Homo sapiens: one gene and its partners. Changing the gene in region 2 together with the main gene of any one other region gives a genetic interaction. Each region holds a gene or a part of one and is shown on either strand. Other genes may lie near its edges. The genes, in order: BAD, HRK and BAK1.

Region 1 (2,871 bases), on a different chromosome or scaffold from region 2:
TCCTGACCTTGTGATGTAACTAGTATTTCTTATGCCCTTATTTTGTGCTAGGCACAGGGCCTCACCCATTATTGGCACTCGGTAAGGATTCGTGGGATTAATGAGAAGTTAACCTAAATCTTCACCAAAGGCCCCTGAGCTTCCCCTCGATTCACATACAAGGGACTGGGGCTCTGAGAGGTGGGCTGTGATGCGCCCCTGGAAGACCCACGAGTGGGCCTGCAGAGCTGATGGGGAGGGTTCAGGCAGGGCCAGGGGCTTAGAGGAGCTGAGATTAACGTCGCCCCCCTACCCACTGACCCTCTGCAGGCGCTGGGGCTGTGGAGATCCGGAGTCGCCACAGCTCCTACCCCGCGGGGACGGAGGACGACGAAGGGATGGGGGAGGAGCCCAGCCCCTTTCGGGGCCGCTCGCGCTCGGCGCCCCCCAACCTCTGGGCAGCACAGCGCTATGGCCGCGAGCTCCGGAGGATGAGTGACGAGTTTGTGGACTCCTTTAAGGTGAGCGCCAGTCCCCAGCGTGCCAGGACCTGAAGTACCAGGCCGCCCCCCGCCGGTCTGTCCCTGCCTTGTCCCAAGGCACGCCCGGATCTGGAGTCCCACGACCCCTCCCCAAAGCCGTCCTGTTCCTTCCTAGCTCCAGAGCATTCTGGGATTTGTAGTCACAAGACTTCCCCGCCCCCACTCCCCAGCTCTTCCCCCGCCTGGTGTGTGTGTGTGTGTGTGTGTGTGAGTCACAGGGCATGCTGGGATCTGTAGTCTAGATCCCACTCCAGGCGTGTGTGTGTGTGTGTGTGTGTGTGTGTGTGTGTGTGTGAGAGTCACAGGGCATGCTGGGATCTGTAGTCTAGATCCCACTCCAGGCGTGTGTGTGTGTGTGTGTGTGTGTGTGTGTGTGTGTGTGTGAGTCACAGGGCATGCTGGGATCTGTAGTCTAGATCCCACTCCAGGTGTGTGTGTGTGTGTGTGTGTGTGTGAGAGAGTCACAGGGCATGCTGGGATCTGTAGTCTAGATCCCACTCCAGGTGTGTGTGTGTGTGTGTGTGTGTGTGTCAGTCACAGGGCATGCTGGGATCTGTAGTCTAGATCCCACTCCAGGCGTGTGTGTGTGTGTGTGTGTGTGTGTGTGTGTGTGTGTCACAGGGCATGCTGGGATCTGTAGTCTAGATCCCACTCCAGGCGTGTGTGTGTGTGTGTGTGTGTGTGTGTGTGTCTCACAGGGCATGCTGGGATCTGTAGTCTAGATCCCACTCCAGGCCAAAGCTCCTGGGTTCCCCGAATTCTTGGAAGACCAGGCATGCTGGTATTTGTGCTCCTTGCTGGCACCTGTGCGCTCTGTCGCCCAGGCTGGAGTGCAGTGGTGCGATCACGGCTCACTGCAGCCTGGAACTCCTGGCCTCAAAGGATCCTCCCGCTTCAACCTCCCAAAGTGCTGGGATTACAGGCGCTCACCATCGCTCCCGGCCCTTTGATTCTCGAATTGCGGTCTCATCTTCTGGGTGCTAGGTCTCCAGCTCTGGCCTTTCCATTTAGGGCCCTAGGCATCCTCTCTTCCCGTCTCCGGCACGGAGTTCCTGGGATCTAACCAGTTCCCATTCCTGGGGGCCCATGCGTCCTCGCGAGCGTCCCTGACCGCCCGGCGTGGAGCCTCCTGGGAGTTGTGGCCTTCATTATCTCCCCCCCGATCTCACTTAGAGGAAGGCTCACGGAAGTGGAGAGCCTGGCTCGAGCTGCCATGGTAATCTAACTCATGTAACCCTTTTCTCCCTCCACCAGAAGGGACTTCCTCGCCCGAAGAGCGCGGGCACAGCAACGCAGATGCGGCAAAGCTCCAGCTGGACGCGAGTCTTCCAGTCCTGGTGGGATCGGAACTTGGGCAGGGGAAGCTCCGCCCCCTCCCAGTGACCTTCGCTCCACATCCCGAAACTCCACCCGTTCCCACTGCCCTGGGCAGCCATCTTGAATATGGGCGGAAGTACTTCCCTCAGGCCTATGCAAAAAGAGGATCCGTGCTGTCTCCTTTGGAGGGAGGGCTGACCCAGATTCCCTTCCGGTGCGTGTGAAGCCACGGAAGGCTTGGTCCCATCGGAAGTTTTGGGTTTTCCGCCCACAGCCGCCGGAAGTGGCTCCGTGGCCCCGCCCTCAGGCTCCGGGCTTTCCCCCAGGCGCCTGCGCTAAGTCGCGAGCCAGGTTTAACCGTTGCGTCACCGGGACCCGAGCCCCCGCGATGCCCTGGGGGCCGTGCTCACTACCAAATGTTAATAAAGCCCGCGTCTGTGCCGCCGAGGCTTTTCTGTGCGTCGACTGGGGCTCCGGCAGGCCGGGGTAGTGCTCTCACGGATACTTTCAAAAGAGGCCGCTGTCTTACGAGGGAAACTTAGGCTCTGCCTGACATCCAGCGACAGAGACGGAAGGGGTCGCGGCGGCTCGCGGGCCTGGGCTGCGCGGCCCAGGTCCAAGTCCCCAGCACGCGCATTGGGACCGCAGCGCTGCCGGCAGCCCGATCCCGCGCTCTGCAAACCGTGCCGCGGCCCCCCAGAGAGGGTCACTCGCTCCTATTTGGGTCAGCCCTTTCCAGCAGCTACTGTGTGGCCGGCCCGGGGCCAGCGCCGCCCGGGTACCTCGCGGGGCGGGAGGGAGCGGCTGAGCCAGGCTGGCAGCAGCGCGGTCGCTGGAAACTGAGGCTTCATGCGGGGACCCGGACAGAGCGGGGGCTCCGTTCCAGAAAGATTTATTGGCGCCCCCTATAACCCGGGCCGGTTCTTGGTGCCGGGCACAGAGATGCATTGCGCCACGGCCCTGCTCGCGGAAGCTCCCGAGGGCCCGGAATCGGCAGGGCAGTCAGAGAGGGCTTCAGGGAGGAGGCAGCTAG
Region 2 (3,703 bases):
CACAATGATGGATGGGGAATGTAAATGATGGACTAACCAAATAAAGCAATACCAACCAACTTCTAAGCATGGTGGCTCACGCCTGTAATCCCAGCACTTTGGGAGGCCAAGGCAGGTGGATCACAAGGTCAGGAGTTCGAGACCAGGATGGCCAATGTAGTGAAACTCTGTCTCTACTAAAAATACAAAAATTAAGCCAGGTGTGGTGGCAGGCACCTGTAATCCCAGCTACTCGGGAGGCTAAGGCAGGAGAATCTCTTGAACCTGGGAGGTGGAGGTTGCAGAGAGATTGCGCCATTGCACTCCAGCTCAGGCGACAGTGTGAGACTTCATCTCAAAACAAACAAACAAAAAGAAGTGTCTCATAGAAAAATATTAAGCTGTTGAACAAATGCCTGTGATATATGGAAAAGGTCAGGTTACAGATAATATATTTATAGTGATTCCAAGTCTTAAAGTACCTATCCAGCCAGGAATGGTGGTGCACACCTATAATCCCAACACTTTGGAAAACCAAGGCAGGAGGTCTTGAGCTCAGGAGTTCAAGACCAGCCTGGGCAACATAGCAAAACCCTGTCTCTACAAAAAATACAAAAATTAGCCAGGTGTGGTGGCGTGCACCTGTAGTCTCAGCTACTCAGAAGGCTGAGGTGGGAGAGTCGCTTGAGCCCAGGAGGTTAAGGCTGCAGTGAGCTACGATCCTGCTACTGCACTCCAGCCTGGGTGACAGAGTAAGACCCCGTCTCAAAAAAACAAAGAGAGAGAGAGACAGAGACAGAAACAGAGAGAGACAGGAAGAAGGAGGGACGGAAGGAAGGAAGGAAGAGAGGGAGGGAGGGAGGCAGGCAGGGAGGGAGGGAGGGAAAGAAAGAGAGAAAAAGAGAAAGGAAGAAAGAAAGGAAAGAGAAATGGCAGAAAGAAGGAAAGAAAATCACATCACTAAAGGGTCAAATCTAATGCAATGGAAAGGTAGAAAGGCTTAGAATCTGTCTGGTCTTTACATGGGAAAGGACTGCAATCTTCTGCTACTCAGACCTTCTGCTCAAAGCTGAACCTCCTTTCTCCAGAGGCAAGACTACAATTTTCTTTTTCATTTTTTTGTTTTGTTTTGTTTTGTTTTGTTTTGAGACAGAGTCTCATTATGTCACCCAGGACAGAGTGCAGTGGCACAATCATAGCTCACTGCAGCCACAAAGTCCTGGCTCAAGCAATCATCCTGCCTCAGCCTCCCCAGTAGCTGGGATTACAGGCACATGCCACCACGCCTGACTACAATTTTCTTTTATTCAGCATTTTCCAAATAGTTGCCAATGAACTTGTCATATTTTTTGTCATCAAGAAAAAGTTATTTATTTTTCTGAGACAGGGTCTCATTCTCTTGCCCAGCCTGTAGTACAGTGGTACGATTATAGCTCACTATAGCCTCAGTCTCCTGGGCTCAAGCAATCCTCCTACCTCACTCAGCCTCCCGAGTAGTTGGTAACACAGGTGCAGACCACCATACCTCACTAATTTCTTATTTTTTGTAGAGATGGGGTCTCACTATATTGCCCAGGTTAGTCTCAAGTTCCAGGGCTCAAGCAATCTTCCCACCTCAGCCTCCCCAAGTGCTGGGATTACAGGCATGAGCCACCACATCCAGCTACTTTTTAAAAAAGTAATATTATATCAAGTTTCCCAGAGCAATTAAATTCCACCCTGCCCAAGTCTCTGGCCCATGGAGCAAAGGTTCAGTGTGGGAAAGCTCTGTGGAAAGCAGCCATCTTGGATAAGCCAGTTGCCTCCCCACAGGAAAAGGAAGGAGCTTTCTCCTTGCCTGGCCAACCAGAAGTCGTAAAAGGATGCAACTTATTGATGTGGGCTAAATCAGAAATCCCCCACCCAACAGCAGGGGCACCAGTTTAGAGCAGGAAAGGAGAGGGGAGCCAGTGCTGAGTTGAATGGTGAGAGTTCTAAGGGTGATGGAAACCCAATCGATGTCCACAATGTTCCCCTGGCACTGAGGGGAGTGGGCATGAGTGAGTTGGTTCAGGGATCAGGACCTCTCAGACCTTGGCAGGAGGTGAACTGGTTTATTTCTACTAAGAGGTGAGGGCAGGGGCAAAGCCTGGGTCTCCTGTCTCTGAAAGAGTCTGGGGTCACCTGAGGGCTGTGGCTGGGACTCATTCATCTCTGCATCCCTGCATCTGGGCACCCAGCCCTGGCACCAAGCTACACTGCTTGTTTTTCTTTCCTGAAACGTACTATGCAGTCTTACCTCCGGGCCACTGGACTTAGCTCTCTCTCTTCCCAAAACACCTTTCTCGCATGTCTTCATATAGCTGGCTCCTTTCTGTCATTCAAGTCCACTATTCCCCTGGTTCCTCTTCAAAGTGTCCTGCCTTCCCTCATCACCACAGGTGAGGAGTCCCTGGGGCACTCTCTATTGTGTTACCTTTGTGTATTACCTTCAAAGCCCTGAGGAGTTTCTAAAATTATCTCTGTGTTAGATTGCATAATCCAAAGGTGGCCACTAAAATATCTCCCATTCCACATGCTATTCTAGAACCTCACCACTCCCCCATGAGGTGGAGTCTAATTCCGCCCCACCTTGAATCTGTATCAGCTTGTGACTTGCTTCTGACCCAAGTGACTTTGGAAGCTGGGACAGAAAAAGCAAAGCAGCTTCCACCTAGTTCCCTGGGGTACTTGCTTTTGGAGCTCTCAGTCACTGTGTCAGAATCCGGCTGCCATGCTGTGAGGAAGCCCAAGCCACACGAAGAGGCTGAGTATAGCTGCTCCAATTGACAGCCCCAGCTGACTCCCAGTATTAACAGCCAGACATGTAAATAAGGTTGCCTCCCCACCCATGACTCCAGTCCCCAGCCATCCTGGAGCAGAGACAAGTCACCCCCACTATGCCCTGACCAAATTCCTAACCCACAGAATGTGTGAGCATGGTCAAATATGTCAGCCTTCCATATAGGTGAGTTCCACATCCATGGATTCAACCAACCTCAGATCAAAACTATTGGAAAAAAAAATTTAAAAATAACACAAGTATAAAAAACACACATAAAAACAATACAGTATAATTAGTTACATAGCACTTACATTGTATTGGGTATTATAAGTAATCTAAAGATGATTTAAAGCCTACAGTGTGTGGGTTATATGCAAACACTACACCATTTTATATCAAGGACTTGGCATCCTTGGATTTTGGGATCCAAAGTGGGATCCTGGAACCACTCCCGCCCAGAGACAGAGGGATGGCTCTAGTTGTTTGAAGCAAAACTTAGTAGTTTTGGAGTAATTTGTTACACAGAAGTAGTAACAAGAACAATATTTACTTATTGTCTGTCTCTTCCCACTAAAATGTGGGCTCCATGAAAGCAGGGAACTCTTATGTCTTGGTCCTTCCTGTATCCACAGTGCCCTATACACAGAAGGTACTCAATAATTAGCAGTTGTATAAGTGGAAGAACCTGAATTTGGGAAACAATAGTGACTATGTTGCATAGTTTCTTTTTTTATTTTTTATTTTTTTGTAACAGAGTCTCACTCATTCTGTCGCCCAGGCTAGAGTACAGTGGCGCGATCTCGGCTCACTGCAACCTCCGCCTCCTGGGTTCATGCAATTCTCCTGCCTCAGCCTCCCAAGTAGCTGGGACTACAGGCACACACCATCATGCCTGGCTAATTTTTGTATTTTTAGTGGAGA
Region 3 (2,668 bases), on a different chromosome or scaffold from region 2:
TCTAAGTTCACGGACTGGATATTTCAGCTCTGAGCACTAATTCTAAAATCTATCACTTACTCCTACCTTCACCTCCAGTTTCAAATCTACTCCGACACTGACTTCCCTAACTCTGGTGGTAGCAATGGCTAACACTTTGTAAGGTGGACACTAATCTAAGCATATTTTCCCTATTTTACAAACCAGGAGACTAAGGGCTAGGAAGCTTCACGAAGGCAGTAAGTGGCAAAGCTTGGATTTGCACCCAAATATTCGGTGTCTTTAACCACTTGGATGCCAGATTATAGCAAGTAGGAGCCATTTCTAGGACCTGGCAGAGGTTAGCACCCTCACCATCTTCAGTGTGATATGTGGTTTCAAATTGGAACTATGAAGGACAGCTATGTCCCAGCTGGGCTGGGGAGCTGTGGGGGACGTCCCCACCTCAGGCCCCCTCTAGAGTCCTGATCTAACCAGTCAAGACCTTGGAGTCAGAGCTCAAAAGAGCTGTGAGCTAATGCCCAAAATACAAGTCTGGGACCCCGAAAGAGAAAAATAGGGGGCCGAGACCACATGTGAGTTCACAGCAGACATTGGACACTGACAGAAGGCTTCTCCCCATGCCAGGAGAGCATCATGCAGGCAGGGTATGGTATGGTTGTGACATGACAGAGGAGTGACTGGAGCTGGCAGGGAGGTGGCTGGGGTACCTGGTGGCAATCTTGGTGAAGTACTCATAGGCATTCTCTGCCGTGGGCTGCAGGTGCTGCAACATGGTCTGGAACTCTGAGTCATAGCGTCGGTTGATGTCGTCCCCGATGATGGCGAGCTGCCGTCCCACCTGCCCCATGGTGCTGTAGGAGCAGGAGGCATGCAGGTGAGCCAGTAACCAGGCAGTCGGGACCAGGCCCTGGCTCATGGCAGAGGGGTTCTGCCTGAGCTGTCCATGGCCCTGTGCATCCCTTCTTGGAGGTCCCTGACAGTGTTCTAAGACATGAGTGCTGGGCTCCAGGAGAAGGGGCAGGCATGGGCTAAAAAGGATACAAGGTCCTGGATGGGGGTGGGAGCCCAACATAAAAGAGGAGCAACCATGAGAGAAGGGCAAGACCCCCGAGGCCTCCCCAGCTCCCAGGACCTGCACAGAGACCCATGCGAGCTACTGCCTCCCTGAAGATGTCCTTGTGGGCCCAGCGGTTGTAGCTCACCTGCTAGGTTGCAGAGGTAAGGTGACCATCTCTGGGTCGGCAGGGGCAGCCACCCCTTCAGCCTCCTGTTCCTGCTGATGGCGGTAAAAAACGTAGCTGCGGAAAACCTCCTCTGTGTCCTGGGCTACCTGCTCCTCTGAGGATCAAAGCTGGGAGTCAGGGAGAGAGGGCCGAACCCTGGCAGCCCCATGCCTTATAGGGGATTCACTCTTCCTAAGGCCATAGCTGTCCTCACCCATGGAAAGAAATATCCCAACCAGGTGCGGTGGCTCACGCCTATAATCCCAGCACTTTGGGAGGCCGAGGTGGGCAGATCACCTGAGGTCGGGAGTTCAAGACCAGCCTGACCAACATGGAGAAACTCTGTCTCTACTAAAAATACAAAATTAGCCGGGTGTGGTGGCACATGCCTGTAATCCCACCTACTCAAGAAGAGGCTGAGGCAGGAGAATTACTTGACCCCGGGAGGCGGAGGTTGCGGTGAGCGGAGATCGTGCCACTGCACTCCAGCCTAGGCAACAAGAGCGAAACTCTGTCTCAAAAAAAAAAAAAAAATGGCCGGGTGTGGTGGCTCATGCCTGTAATCCCAGCACTTTGGGAGGCCAAGGCGGGCGGATCACGAGGTCAGGAGATTGAGACCATCCTGGCTAACATGGTGAAACCCCGTCTCTACTAAACAAAATACAAAAAATTAGCCAGGCGTGGTGGGAGGCGCCTGTAGTCCCAGCTACTCGGGAGGCTGAGGCAGGAGAATGGCGTGAACCCGGGAGTTGGAGCTTGCAGTGAGCCTAGATCACGCCACTGCACTCCAGCCTGGGCAATAGAGCGAGACTCCATCTCAAAAAACAAAACAAAACAAAACAACAACAACAAAAAAAACAAAAAAAAAAAAAAGAAAAGAAATATCCCTACTTCAGCACCTTAGCCGCCCCTAGAGCTTATGCTGTGTGGAGAGTTGTTCCGGCACTTGCATTGAGTCCTCACAGTAGCCCTGGGAGCAGGCAATCCCCAGCTGGCAGGGGGAAAATGGCACAGGGTGTCTGAGTAACGTGTGCAAGGTCATACAGCCAGAACAAGCCGGGGAACCGGGACAGTCCCGGGCATTTGGGGTCCTGAGTCTACATTAGTACATCTCAGCTCCGCAGCCCTTTGCGTGCAGGGAAATGTGGGAAACAAAATCTGAATTTGTAGCTGCGGCCCAGAAAAGTCACACAGGGAGATAGTGACAGACCTGGGACCTGATTCCCAAGTCCAGGGAACAGCCCGCCGTGAGGTGTGAGCTGGGGCTTCCCTGGCTATCCCCTGGGAAGAGGGAAGGAGGGCAGCCATCTTACTTCCTCCCCAAGTCACAATAATTGCGTTCCCTGTTGAGCAGACCTGACTGGGTGATTGGCCAGCTTACTTCCTTATTTCTCCCGCTGGAGGGATACAGCAGCCAGGCCCCACTCTAATTCCTGCCTCCCTCGCCCGTGACCCAGCCCTCT

Evidence for each region.
Region 1: changes in HRK (region 2) and BAD together harm fitness more than expected from each alone (negative genetic interaction), as found in Homo sapiens cells (one large-scale study listed by BioGRID).
Region 3: changes in HRK (region 2) and BAK1 together harm fitness more than expected from each alone (negative genetic interaction), as found in Homo sapiens cells (one large-scale study listed by BioGRID).

Annotation. Positions count from the first base shown.
Region 1 is NC_000011.10:64,269,242-64,272,112, reverse strand, and holds the end of BAD (bcl2-associated agonist of cell death), read left to right. Parts: intron 1-309; coding exon 310-500; intron 501-1,451; coding exon of another isoform or gene 1,452-1,454; exon of another isoform or gene 1,455-1,582; intron 1,583-1,775; coding exon 1,776-1,904; 3' UTR 1,905-2,283; downstream 2,284-2,871. Other genes in the region: integral membrane protein GPR137, read right to left, coding at 1,452-1,454. UniProt on the Homo sapiens protein: Promotes cell death. Successfully competes for the binding to Bcl-X(L), Bcl-2 and Bcl-W, thereby affecting the level of heterodimerization of these proteins with BAX. Can reverse the death repressor activity of Bcl-X(L), but not that of Bcl-2.
Region 2 is NC_000012.12:116,872,029-116,875,731, forward strand, and holds part of HRK (activator of apoptosis harakiri), read right to left. Parts: intron 1-3,703. UniProt on the Homo sapiens protein: Promotes apoptosis.
Region 3 is NC_000006.12:33,574,609-33,577,276, forward strand, and holds part of BAK1 (bcl-2 homologous antagonist/killer), read right to left. Parts: intron 1,321-2,668; coding exon 1,185-1,320; intron 834-1,184; coding exon 690-833; intron 1-689. UniProt on the Homo sapiens protein: Plays a role in the mitochondrial apoptotic process. Upon arrival of cell death signals, promotes mitochondrial outer membrane (MOM) permeabilization by oligomerizing to form pores within the MOM.